2 separate regions of the Homo sapiens genome follow, and region 2 is linked to region 1. Evidence: fine-mapped expression QTL. A gene starts in region 1. The other region holds a variant in brackets. All regions are shown on one strand. Distances are from middle to middle. Region 1 holds the start of PRX (periaxin). Region 2 holds the start of MIR6796 (microRNA 6796).

Evidence for each region. PIP is the estimated chance that this variant, and not a neighbour inherited with it, causes the effect.
Region 2: its variant is the best candidate, but not a certain one, in a credible set for the expression of PRX in NK cells (Schmiedel 2018, PIP 0.57).

What each region holds. Positions count from the first base shown.
Region 1 is chr19:40,410,400-40,415,768 of GRCh38, forward strand. It overlaps PRX (periaxin), which reads right to left and starts at 2,979. Exons shown (of 7, transcript NM_181882.3): 1 at 2,939-2,979. RefSeq lists enhancers at 1-272, 3,789-4,437.
Region 2 is chr19:40,366,155-40,371,523 of GRCh38, forward strand. It overlaps PLD3 (phospholipase D family member 3), which reads left to right. Exons shown (of 13, transcript NM_012268.4): 3 at 265-356; 4 at 456-530; 5 at 619-761; 6 at 1,542-1,725; 7 at 3,754-3,874; 8 at 3,956-4,083. The coding sequence starts at 330. MIR6796 (microRNA 6796) reads left to right here and starts at 3,692; the gene lies at 3,692-3,753. RefSeq lists a silencer at 1,792-1,957. The variant G/A (reference allele first, on the strand shown) is at 2,577.

The DNA of each region.
Region 1 (5,369 bases):
AGTGGCCAGGAGAGAGGACATGGGGACCCCTTAACACTCCCACAGCACCCACGCCCCCCACAGTGTAAGAGGGCTTCTCTCTGCATCTCCTAGGGGGTCCTGGTCTCTGTGGCCTTCCCTGGGATCCCCTGTGAGCCCCCTACACCTTCCAGGCTGTGCCAGGACTTGAACTTGTCTAAAAACTCCAGCACGGGCTGGGCGCGTGGCTTAGGCCTGTAATCCCAACACTTTAGGAGGCCGAGGTGGGTGGATCACGAGGTCAGGGGTTCGAGACCAGTCTGGCCAATATGGTGAAACCCCGTTTCTACTAAAAATACTAAAATTAGCCAGGCGTGGCAGCGCGCGCCTGTAATCCCAGCTACTCGGGAGGCTGAGGCAGGAGAATCGCTTCAGCCTGGGAAGCGGAGGTTGTGGTGAGCTGAGAATGCACCACTGCACTCCAGCCTGTGCGATAGAGCGAGACTCCATCTCAAAAAAATAAAAATAAAAATAAAAAAAGCTCCAGCGCTTTAGCTGGACAATCATAATAACAACTGATGGGTATTGAGTGGTTAGTATTAATATTAGCTGGTCCCTGCACTAAGACCTTGTCTGCCATGTCTGGGGCATTTCCTCTGAATTGGGCCCTGTGCTAGCACCCACAGGCCTCAAAATCACCCTAGATGTTGTGGCTGTTATGGGGTGGAAACTGAGGCTCACAGAGGGGTCACCCAGCCAGAAAGGGGCAGAGCTAGGACCCGTGCCTGCCCTTCACCCCTGCTTCACCTTAATTTGCATTGGTGGCTCTGCGCACTGGGGCAGGAGCTGGGTTGGGCAGGAGGGGGCCAACGGTGCTAGAAACACACCCAGGCCAGGTGCCGGGCCTGGACCGGGCAGGCGCTTTACATACTTGACCTTGTGGGACCCCATTTAACTGATGAGTCAATGAGAGTTAAGAGACCGGTGATCACAGTGACAGAGTCGAGACTTGAGCCCAGGTGTGAAAGCGAACTCAGTTCCCTTACCCAGGACTGATACACAGCACAGAGTCCTGAGCTGGGGACACGAGAAGCCTGAACCTTGTAGGTGGTAGTAGAGGGGGTCTCCTGGGTCATCAGCTCTCTGTCCCAGGCCCGTGGCTGTGAGGGTCATGCCCGGAGCCTGGCACAGGAAGTTCAGGCGGGGCAGGGACAAGAGAGAGTGCCCTCCTTCTTCGTCCCTGCCTGGACAGGCACCCAGCCCAGGTTATATTTAGCCCAACTGTGCTCTTCCTGAGCCACGTACCCAGCCCCTGGGGTAAGGTGGGGGCAGCTTCGGAAGGAAACCCACAGAGAGGACTCTGTGTTCCCAGCTCTGCCTATCCCACTAGGCAGGGGAAAGAGGGGTGGGGAGGCTCCTGGGGAGGGTCCCTGCCTTGTGTTAGAGGCAGATCCACTGGGACCAGGCAGACACTCCAGATGCCAGCAGCCTATTTCTTGGGTAGTTACTGTGGCATGACCCTGGCATATGCCAGAACTTTCAGAATCCCCAGGGTCCCCATTTCTTGAGCACCTACTGTGTGCTAAGATCCTTCCTGTCTTGGCTCCTTAAATCTTTGTAACATCTCCCTGGAGTGGGTACAACTGAGATATCCATTTCAGATGCGACTTATGCCCTTCAGAGCAGCTGGGAGCGAGGGGTTGTCATTCGGAGGCTGCTGAGGGATCGGCTGAGGGCATTGCCCTTCTGGCCCTCTTTCCCTGGTGACTGCCACCAACTTCACTTGGGAACCCTGCCTGCTCAGAGCCTCAGCTTTCCCCCGCCACCAGCGTGATCTCTCATAGCAATGGGGGTCAGGGGTTGGGCTGACTCATCCAGACCTCTAAACATTATCTGAGGCCACCTAGGGGGTCAGGGGGAGTTAAGGCAGTGGCCTCTGGCTGCCTCGGTTAGTCCCTGCTCCAGCACTTCCCAGGTGTGAGGACTTGGGCAAGATCCTTCATCTCTGGGGCCTCAGTTTCTCCATCTGTAAAATGGAGCCAATAAGAAAGGCTTTGAAGATTTGTGAGAGAACAGCAGGTGCTTAGAATATCCCTCCTGTATAGTAAATGCTTGATTAATATAAACTCGTCTCTGACAGCAACAGGGAGAGTATGGAGGGAGGGAGCTGTGCTTCTCACAGTGTTGCACATCCAACCTTTGCTCCTCAGTGGCCCCCACTTTCTCTGCTACCAAAGGGGAGCTTTGGCTGAGAGACAAAACCCAGCTCAGGCACCAGCCTCCCAACAGGATCCATGCTGCCTCCCTAGCACCCTACTCCAGGGACCCACCCCAGGCCTCCTGCCCCAGCTCTGGTGTTTGTTAGTTTGTTTTTTGGAGACAGGGTCTCCCTCTGTCACTGAGACTGGAGTGCAGAGGTGTGATCACGGCTCACTGCAGCCCCAACCTCCTGGGCCCAACCCAATCTCCCATCTCAGCCTCCAGAGTAGCTGGAACCACAGGCATGCACCACCATGCCCAGCTAATTAAAAAAAATTTTTTTTTGTTTTGTAGAGATGGGGGCCTCTCTATGTGGCCCAGGCTGGTCTCGAACTCCTGGGCTTAAGCAGTCCTGCCGCCTCAGCCTCCCAAAGTGCTGGGATTATAGGCATGAGCCACCATGCCTGGCTGCCCTAGCTCTTTAAAAGCAGCAACTCATTTACTCGGCACCAGCCCTGTGAGGTGGCCTCCAGACATCAGCCCATTTTAGAGATGGGGAAACAGAGGCACAAAGGATGAAGTATCTTGCCCAAGGCTGCACAGCCAGAAAGGAGAGGAAAGGGGATTTGAACCACCAGCTCCAAAGTCTATACCTTTAACACCTACACCACACGGCTTCCTGAGCCCCCAGGCCCCCTCCCAGCACCTCCCGGGACCCTGAACCTCATTCCCACAGTGTCTCAGCCTGGCCAGGGAAGGGACCGGCCGGCTGATCTCTTACCGCTGAGCCTCCAGACACCTCGAGAGCTCCTGGTCCCGTCTGTCAGCCCTAGCCCTAGGCTGGGGGGGAAAAGGAATGGGGAGGGGGGAGGAGAGAGAGACCCCAGCCATTGGCTGCGGGGGTGTGACGTCACCAGAGGGTGGGTGGTGGAGAAACAAACATCCCCCTCCTCCAGCTACATCTATCCCCAAGGGGTGGGGGCCACGGGACAGCCACCAGCCGCCTCTCTCTTGCCTGGGCCGAGATCTCTGCCATGAGCTCAGCTTCAAGGATTTGCACGTTGGCTTCCTCGACTTGGAGAATCAGGACCCCACCCCAGCCCCACTGTTTCCTGGCTCCAGGACCCGGGCCTGGCCAACTGCCTCTACTGTAAACTCCTTTCACTCCCTCTCCCTGTCAACTTGGGTTCAAATCGCAGCGCGACCACTTCCTCGCTGGGTGACCTGCTGCCAGTCACAGCTTCTCTTTGCGGATAGTAAGAGTACCCACCTTATGGGGCTGTGGTGAAGATTAAACGAGTTAAAAGAGACTGAAAATGTAAGACAATGCCGGGCACATAATGAGGGTTACTAATAAGTATTTGGTATTATTTTTCACACAAATTAGGTGGCTGGCTCATCTTGCTGGGGGGTTTTGGCCCCTTTTCAGTAAGGCTGGGCACAGGGGACCCCCAGTTCTCTGTCTAATGGAGTTACTGTTTAGGGGGACACCTATCACATACTAAGTACCATGCTCAGTGCTGAAGCCCTGCTTTTGAATCAAGGGTGTAAAATGGGCTCCTTATGCTCCCCACCCTTTTTTTTGAGACAAGGTCTCACTCTGTTGCCCAGGCTGGAGTGCAGTGGTGTGATCATGGCTCACTGCAGCCTCCACCTCCTGGGCTCAAGCAATCCTCCCGACTGAGCCCCCTCAAATAGCTGGGACCACAGGTATGCATCATCATGCCCAGCTAATTTTTGTATTTTTTGTAATGGCAAAGTTTCACCATGTTGCCCAGGCTGGTCTCGAACTCCTGGGCTCAAGCGATCTTCCCACTTCGGCCTCCCAAAGTTCTGGGATTACAGGCGTGAGCCACCGCGTCCAGCTATGCCCAATTTATAGCTATGTGGCCAGGAGGTGGTGAAGCTGAGGTCCAACCCCTGTTCTCCTGGACCACAAAAACCCTGCTACACTCTTCTGCCCCTTCCACTTTGCAGACCAGAAGGCTCAGAGAAGGTAAGTGACTCTCCCAATATCACCATAGCAGGTCATTGGCAGGGGTCCAGAGTTGAACCCAGACCTGCCCGACTCCCAAGCCAAAGCTACCAGGCCTCACCCCCAACCCCTGGACCCTGGTCCAGCCCCCAGCCTGCCCTGACTCACCAGACCCCGGGGGGCGGCACAGGGAGCACAGGTACCCCCACATGCCACTTGAACCCACCCGGCTGCTGCCTCGGAAGCTCGTCGCTCTCTGAACCCAGGCCCCAGGCCTGGGCTGGGCTGAGGCTGGGGGATTACCCCCAAAGCGCATGTCAGCAGCTTCTGCCCCATTGTCCAGCCAGGCACAGACACCAAGCCCTGGCCTCTGTCGGCACCCTCGCCCCTCACACCAGCCTGGGTGGCCCCTCTGCAGACCTGTCCCCCATCTCACACCAGAGGGTTGGGGCCTACTTCAGAGGGCGTGGGGGACCAGGCCAGGATGGCAGGATCCCGGAATGCTGGGGGCCTCCCTCCCTTCTCTCTGAAATGCCCCCTGCCCACTCTCAGCCACCGGGGAAGGCAGGAATGTGCTGAGCTCTGGGAAATGCCTTCCAGGCCTGGCAGCAACCAAGCATTGGGGTGTGGCCAGAAGCCAGCCAGAGCCCTCCTCCCAGGAGGGGTAGAAGGGATGGTATGGTCGGGGCTCCCGATGGGCCTGAGGAGACCCTCACTTCATTGCAGTCTCTCTCCTTCATTGATTCACGCAAACATTCTTTTGTTCCTATATTCATTCAACAAACACTCACAAGCCCTGTTTAGTGGTAGGTCTTTTGCTGGGCACAGGGGACATCAACAGATCTAACTCCACCCCAGGGAGGAGGCGGCAAACTCAGGAAAGGATCCTGCAGGAGGTGATATCGGCAGTCAAACTGAATTAGCCAGGCGTGGTGGCGGGCACCTGTGATCCCAGCTACTCGGGAGGCTGAGCAGGAGAATTGCTTAAACCCAGGAGGCAGAGGTTACAGTGAGGCAAGATTGCGCCATTGCACTCCAGCCTGGGTGACAGAGCGAGACTCTGTCTCAAAAAGAAAATAATAATAAATAATAAAAGGAAGTCAAAATGGAAGATTGAGGAGGAGGGAGCTAAGGAAAAAAGGAGGGAAGGGGGTTCCAGGCAGAGGGACAAATGTGGGCAAAGGACCAGAGGTGAGAAATGGAGCGGGTCTTCATTCACCATCAGCAAACATTCAGT
Region 2 (5,369 bases), 44 kb before region 1:
AAGGGGGCTGCTAGAGGGGAGCTGCGTGGGTGCTGATGGGGGCAGGGTGGGCACTGCAGAGTGAAGAGCAGGCAGCAGAGCGTTGGATTTTGAGGGATTTCGAAATCCTGCTGACCAGTGACCAGCTTCCTCTTTTTGGGGTGGTGGGCAGTGTGCCAGTGGCCCCCATGATTATGAATAGCCCCAAGACTAATCACTCTTCTGTGATGTCTGTCCCTGGAAAGCGTAGAACACCCCACACAGTGCCCACTTTTGTTCTGCCAGTTTGGAGACCCTGACACACCCACCTTCTCACCTGGGCTCTGCGTATCCCCCAGCCTTGAGGGAAGATGAAGCCTAAACTGATGTACCAGGAGGTAGGTGGATTGGGGGGCTCAGCAGGGTGGAACTGGGTACAGTGGGGGTGGGGGTTCCCAAGAGCCACCTGTCACCCCCGTTGTTGTCCCCATCCCCAGCTGAAGGTGCCTGCAGAGGAGCCCGCCAATGAGCTGCCCATGAATGAGATTGAGGCGTGGAAGGCTGCGGAAAAGGTAGGAGCCCTCCGCCACCCTCGCTCTGTCTCAGAGACAGGCTGGGCTGCCCCCCTCGGGCTGGCTGACCACCTCCTCCTCCCCACAGAAAGCCCGCTGGGTCCTGCTGGTCCTCATTCTGGCGGTTGTGGGCTTCGGAGCCCTGATGACTCAGCTGTTTCTATGGGAATACGGCGACTTGCATCTCTTTGGGCCCAACCAGCGCCCAGCCCCCTGCTATGACCCTTGCGAGTAAGTGGGGGGTGCTGCAGTTGGTGGGGGAGGGGCCTGCCAGACCAGGTACACTTAAGCACACACTAAACAGGGCCTGCACTCAGCCCTACCCAGCGCTTGCGACAAGTGAGGAGGTTGCAGGCTCCCAAGTGCTCGCCCGCCCCCTCCTCCTCCACACACATAGTTTCTATGGCAGCCACAGCGTCATCTTCTGTCAGGCCTGTGAACAGACACAGCATCTTCCACCCACATCTGTGGACCCACACACACATCTCAATACACGACCTTCCTTCCACACCTCTAGACAGACACGCAGAGGATCATGAGTCCAGGCACGCATTCAAATACACACAGTTTTAAAAAATTTTTTTTAAAAGAAAAGAAAAACTCAAATACAGTTTAGCTGGGCTTGGTGGCTCACGCCTGTAATTGCAACACTTTGCGGGGCTGAGGCGGGAGGATTGCTTGAGCCCAGGAGTTCCAGACCAGCCTGGGCAATGTAGTGCGGCTCCATCTCTACTAAAAGTAAAAAAAGTAACCAGGCATACTGGTGCACACCTGTAGTCCCAGCTACTCAAGAGGTTGAGGCGGGAGGATCGCTTGAGCCCAGGGGTTCGAGGCTGCAGTGAGCTGAGATGGCGCCACTGCGCTTCCAGCCTGGGGGACAGGGCAAGACTCTGTCTCTAAAAAAAAAAAAATACAGTCTATCCAACACACCCATGGACGGACAGCTGAGCACTCACCTCCCAGCCCTTGCTCTCCGGCACCGTATGGCTGATAGCATCCCCCACCCCCCAGAGCAGTGCTGGTGGAAAGCATTCCTGAGGGCCTGGACTTCCCCAATGCCTCCACGGGGAACCCTTCCACCAGCCAGGCCTGGCTGGGCCTGCTCGCCGGTGCGCACAGCAGCCTGGACATCGCCTCCTTCTACTGGACCCTCACCAACAATGACACCCACACGCAGGAGCCCTCTGCCCAGCAGGTACCTGCAACCTTGGCCCTGGCCGGCAGCAGGGGCAGGGGGTGGGAGGCAGCGGGGGCTGTGGGGAATGAAGGGGTTTCTCCTGCAGCCCAGGAGACAGAGGGGTGTGTCTCACACAGCAGATTGGACACAGGTGTTTGCAAGCAGCTGTCGTCACGTGGCTCTCTGGACTGGGGGCGTTTGTCACGGTCATCTGTAGGCCTCTGAATGTCAGGGTGCGGGTTTGGTTACAAGGGATTATTAGGCTGGCAGATGTCACTCACCCACAAGCTGTCCTGACCCAGTCACACAAAGAAAGGGAAGAGTGGAGTAATTAACAGCCCAGCCTCAAGACAGGGGCCACCTCCCAGCTGTGTGACCCCAGGCAGGCCACCTCTTCTCTCCAGCTTCAGTTTCTTTATCTGTAAAATGGGGCCAATTTATAGCACCTGCTTCTTAGGGCTCTTGTGAGGATGAAATGGACTAATCCATGCAAATTTTAGCACAGTGCCTGGCACAGAGTCAGCCTTTGTGAGTCTGCTGTTACTATATATCCTGGTATGGTCTGCAGACAAACTTAAAGAACATAAAAGCTTCACAATTTGAAAAGGAACAGCCTACATGGATAACCTCTTCCATTGAAAAACCATGAATTTGTTCCTTCTGTTTTCTTCTCCCTACTGGCTCTTTTTGTGAGAAGTTGTCTTAAAACTTAACTAAAATTACAAGGCTCCTTAAGAACTGCCTGAAAAAAATAATTATGGCCAAGTGTGGTGATTCACACCTGTAATCCCAGCACTTTGGGAGGCCTAGACAGGAGGATCACTGGAGCCCAAGAGTTCGAGACTAGCCTGAGCAACATAGTGAGACCC[G/A]CCCCCCACCTCCCCTCAACCATCTCTACTAAAAATAAAAAAAAATTAGGAGGGTGTTGTGGTGCATGCCTGCAGTCTCAGATACTCAGGAGATGGAAGGAGGAGGATGGCTTGAGCCCAGGAGTTGGAGGCTGCAGCGAGCCGTGATCATGCCACTACACTCCAGCCCAGGCAACATAGCAAGACCCTGTCTCAAAAAAAAGAAAAAGAAAAAGTAATAATAATAATTACAAAAGTTAAAAACCAAAGCCAGGCATAGTGGTACACACCTGTGGTCCCAGCTACTTGGGAGGCTGAAGCAGGAGAATGACTTGAGCCTAGGAATTGGAGGCTGCAGTGAGCTGTGATCATGCCACTGCACTCTAGCCTGGGCAACATAGTGAAACCCTGTCTCTAAAAAAAAATTTTTTTATGTTAAAAAACCGTATGAGCTCCCACTCCCTGCTGGCTCCCTCTAAAGTGGTTTAAAACACAGATGTAGGAGGCAGATGGTCTGGGTTCAAATCCTGCTCCATAGCTGGATGTGGTGGTGCACTCCTGAGGTACTAGCTACTTGGGAGACTGAGGCAGGCGGAATGCTTGAGCCCAGGGATTGAAGATCAGCCTGGGCAACATAGCAAGTCCCTGTCTCAACAAACAAACAAACAAAAAAACAAAAACAAAATCCCACTCCACTACTGAGTTCTCTGTGGGGATTATAATTAAACCAGCCTCACTGGGTTGTGAGAATTCAGTGAGTTCGCTGAGAAGAGGCCTAGAACAGGGCCTGGCACACAGTAGGTTCCAGGGCATCCTTGACTGTTGCTGTTGTTGGCATCATCGTGCCTCACCCGATACCTTCCAGGACCCCCTGCCTGAGCCTCGCCCCCACCATACTGGGAGATGCCTGGAGGCCCTGCCTTGATGCTGAATTTTGAGAAAGTCCCTGGAGGGGCAGGAGGGGTCAGGAGGACTTGGAGGGGGATCACAGGGCAACTAATTATTAAAGCAGATAAAGATGTTTAAAACAGATAAGGAAGTCTTTTAATATTTTAATCTGTAAAGTCTTTAATCTATGCAGGCTAATGTAAAGTCTGTTTACTCCTAATCATGTCTCAAAATAACTCCACCGGGCATTACCTTGTGGGGTTGGAGAGCTGGCTGGTCCAGCCCCTCAGAAGCTCTCCCCTCCCCGCAGGGTGAGGAGGTCCTCCGGCAGCTGCAGACCCTGGCACCAAAGGGCGTGAACGTCCGCATCGCTGTGAGCAAGCCCAGCGGGCCCCAGCCACAGGCGGACCTGCAGGCTCTGCTGCAGAGCGGTGAGCTGGGGCCCAACTGGGGCTGGTCTGGGCCTGGGGGTACCCAGCCTGGCCCCTGATCTCTGCCCCTGCTGGTCACAGGTGCCCAGGTCCGCATGGTGGACATGCAGAAGCTGACCCATGGCGTCCTGCATACCAAGTTCTGGGTGGTGGACCAGACCCACTTCTACCTGGGCAGTGCCAACATGGACTGGCGTTCACTGACCCAGGTCTGTCTGCACCCTGTCTACCTTCCTTCCAGGCCACTCCCTGCCCCACAGGGCACCCAGCCTCCGACTGCATCCCTCACTCAATCCAGAGTCCTCTCCACCCATTCTCTGTAATGGCTTCCTTCTTGCCTCCTACCAGGCCTCCCTAATCCAAGCCATGCACGGTGGCTCACACCTATAATCTCAACACTTTGGGAGGCCAAGGTGGGAGGATTGCTTGAGCCCAGGAGTTGGAGACCAGCCTGGGCAACATAGTGAGACCCCATCTCTACCAAAAAAAAAAAAATAAGCCCGGTGTGGTGGCACACACCTCTGGTCCCAGCTCCTTGGGAGACTGAGGTGGGAGGATCACTTGAGCCCAGGAGTTTGAGGCTACAGTGGGTTGTATTCATGCCACTGCACTCCAGCCTGAGTGACAGAGTGAGACCCTGTTACAAAACAAAGAATCCCTAAATGGAGCCCTCTACTGCCCTCCCCCTGCTCCTGGAAGCCTGGGGCTCCCTCTGATCCCCAATTGCAGCTACCAGCCCCTCTACATGGCATTCAAGAACCTGCGCACCCATTTGATCTTCATTGTACATCTCTGTGTGCCTGCTCTAAGTCCAGCCCTATCCTGGGTAATGTTGGGAACATGGTGGTAACAGATGGACCTCATGGAACTCCCAGCCCAATGCAGACTGGCCTGTCACCTGACAGTGACAGCCCAGAGGGGTCAGGGCCGGGGTTGGGGAGACACAGGCAGAGGGTCAGGGCCAGGATGGAGGGAACAGAGGGCTGTGGAAGCTCAGAGACCCCAACCTGGGGCATTGGAGGGTTTCCCAAAGGAGGTATAACTAATCTGATCCCTGAAGGATAGGGAGGAATTAGCGCAAGATGGAACAGGAAACAGCTTGGGCAATGAGGTGAAGATAAGACAGGACAATAACTCATGAATTCATTTCCTCAACAGATAGTTCCCCTAACCTTTAATCTCAGCAATTATGCAGGGAGATGCTGTAGATATAGCTGTGACTGAGACATCCCTAGTGCCTGTCCTCCCAGCCCAATGGGAAGACCAGTTTGTCACCAGAAAGAATGAGGAGGGAATCCCAAGGGACTGTGAGAGCCCAGAGGAATGCCTGGTGCAGGCTGGGTAGTCATGGGAGGCTTCCTGAAGGAGGCAACATGTCAGCCTAGACCTAAGAATGAGTAGAAGCTAGCTCAGTGGAGGGTAGAAGCAACAGCAGATTGCAAACGTTCAGGAAACCTGGAGCTTTGGAATAACTGATTTTCATCAAAACTTAAGT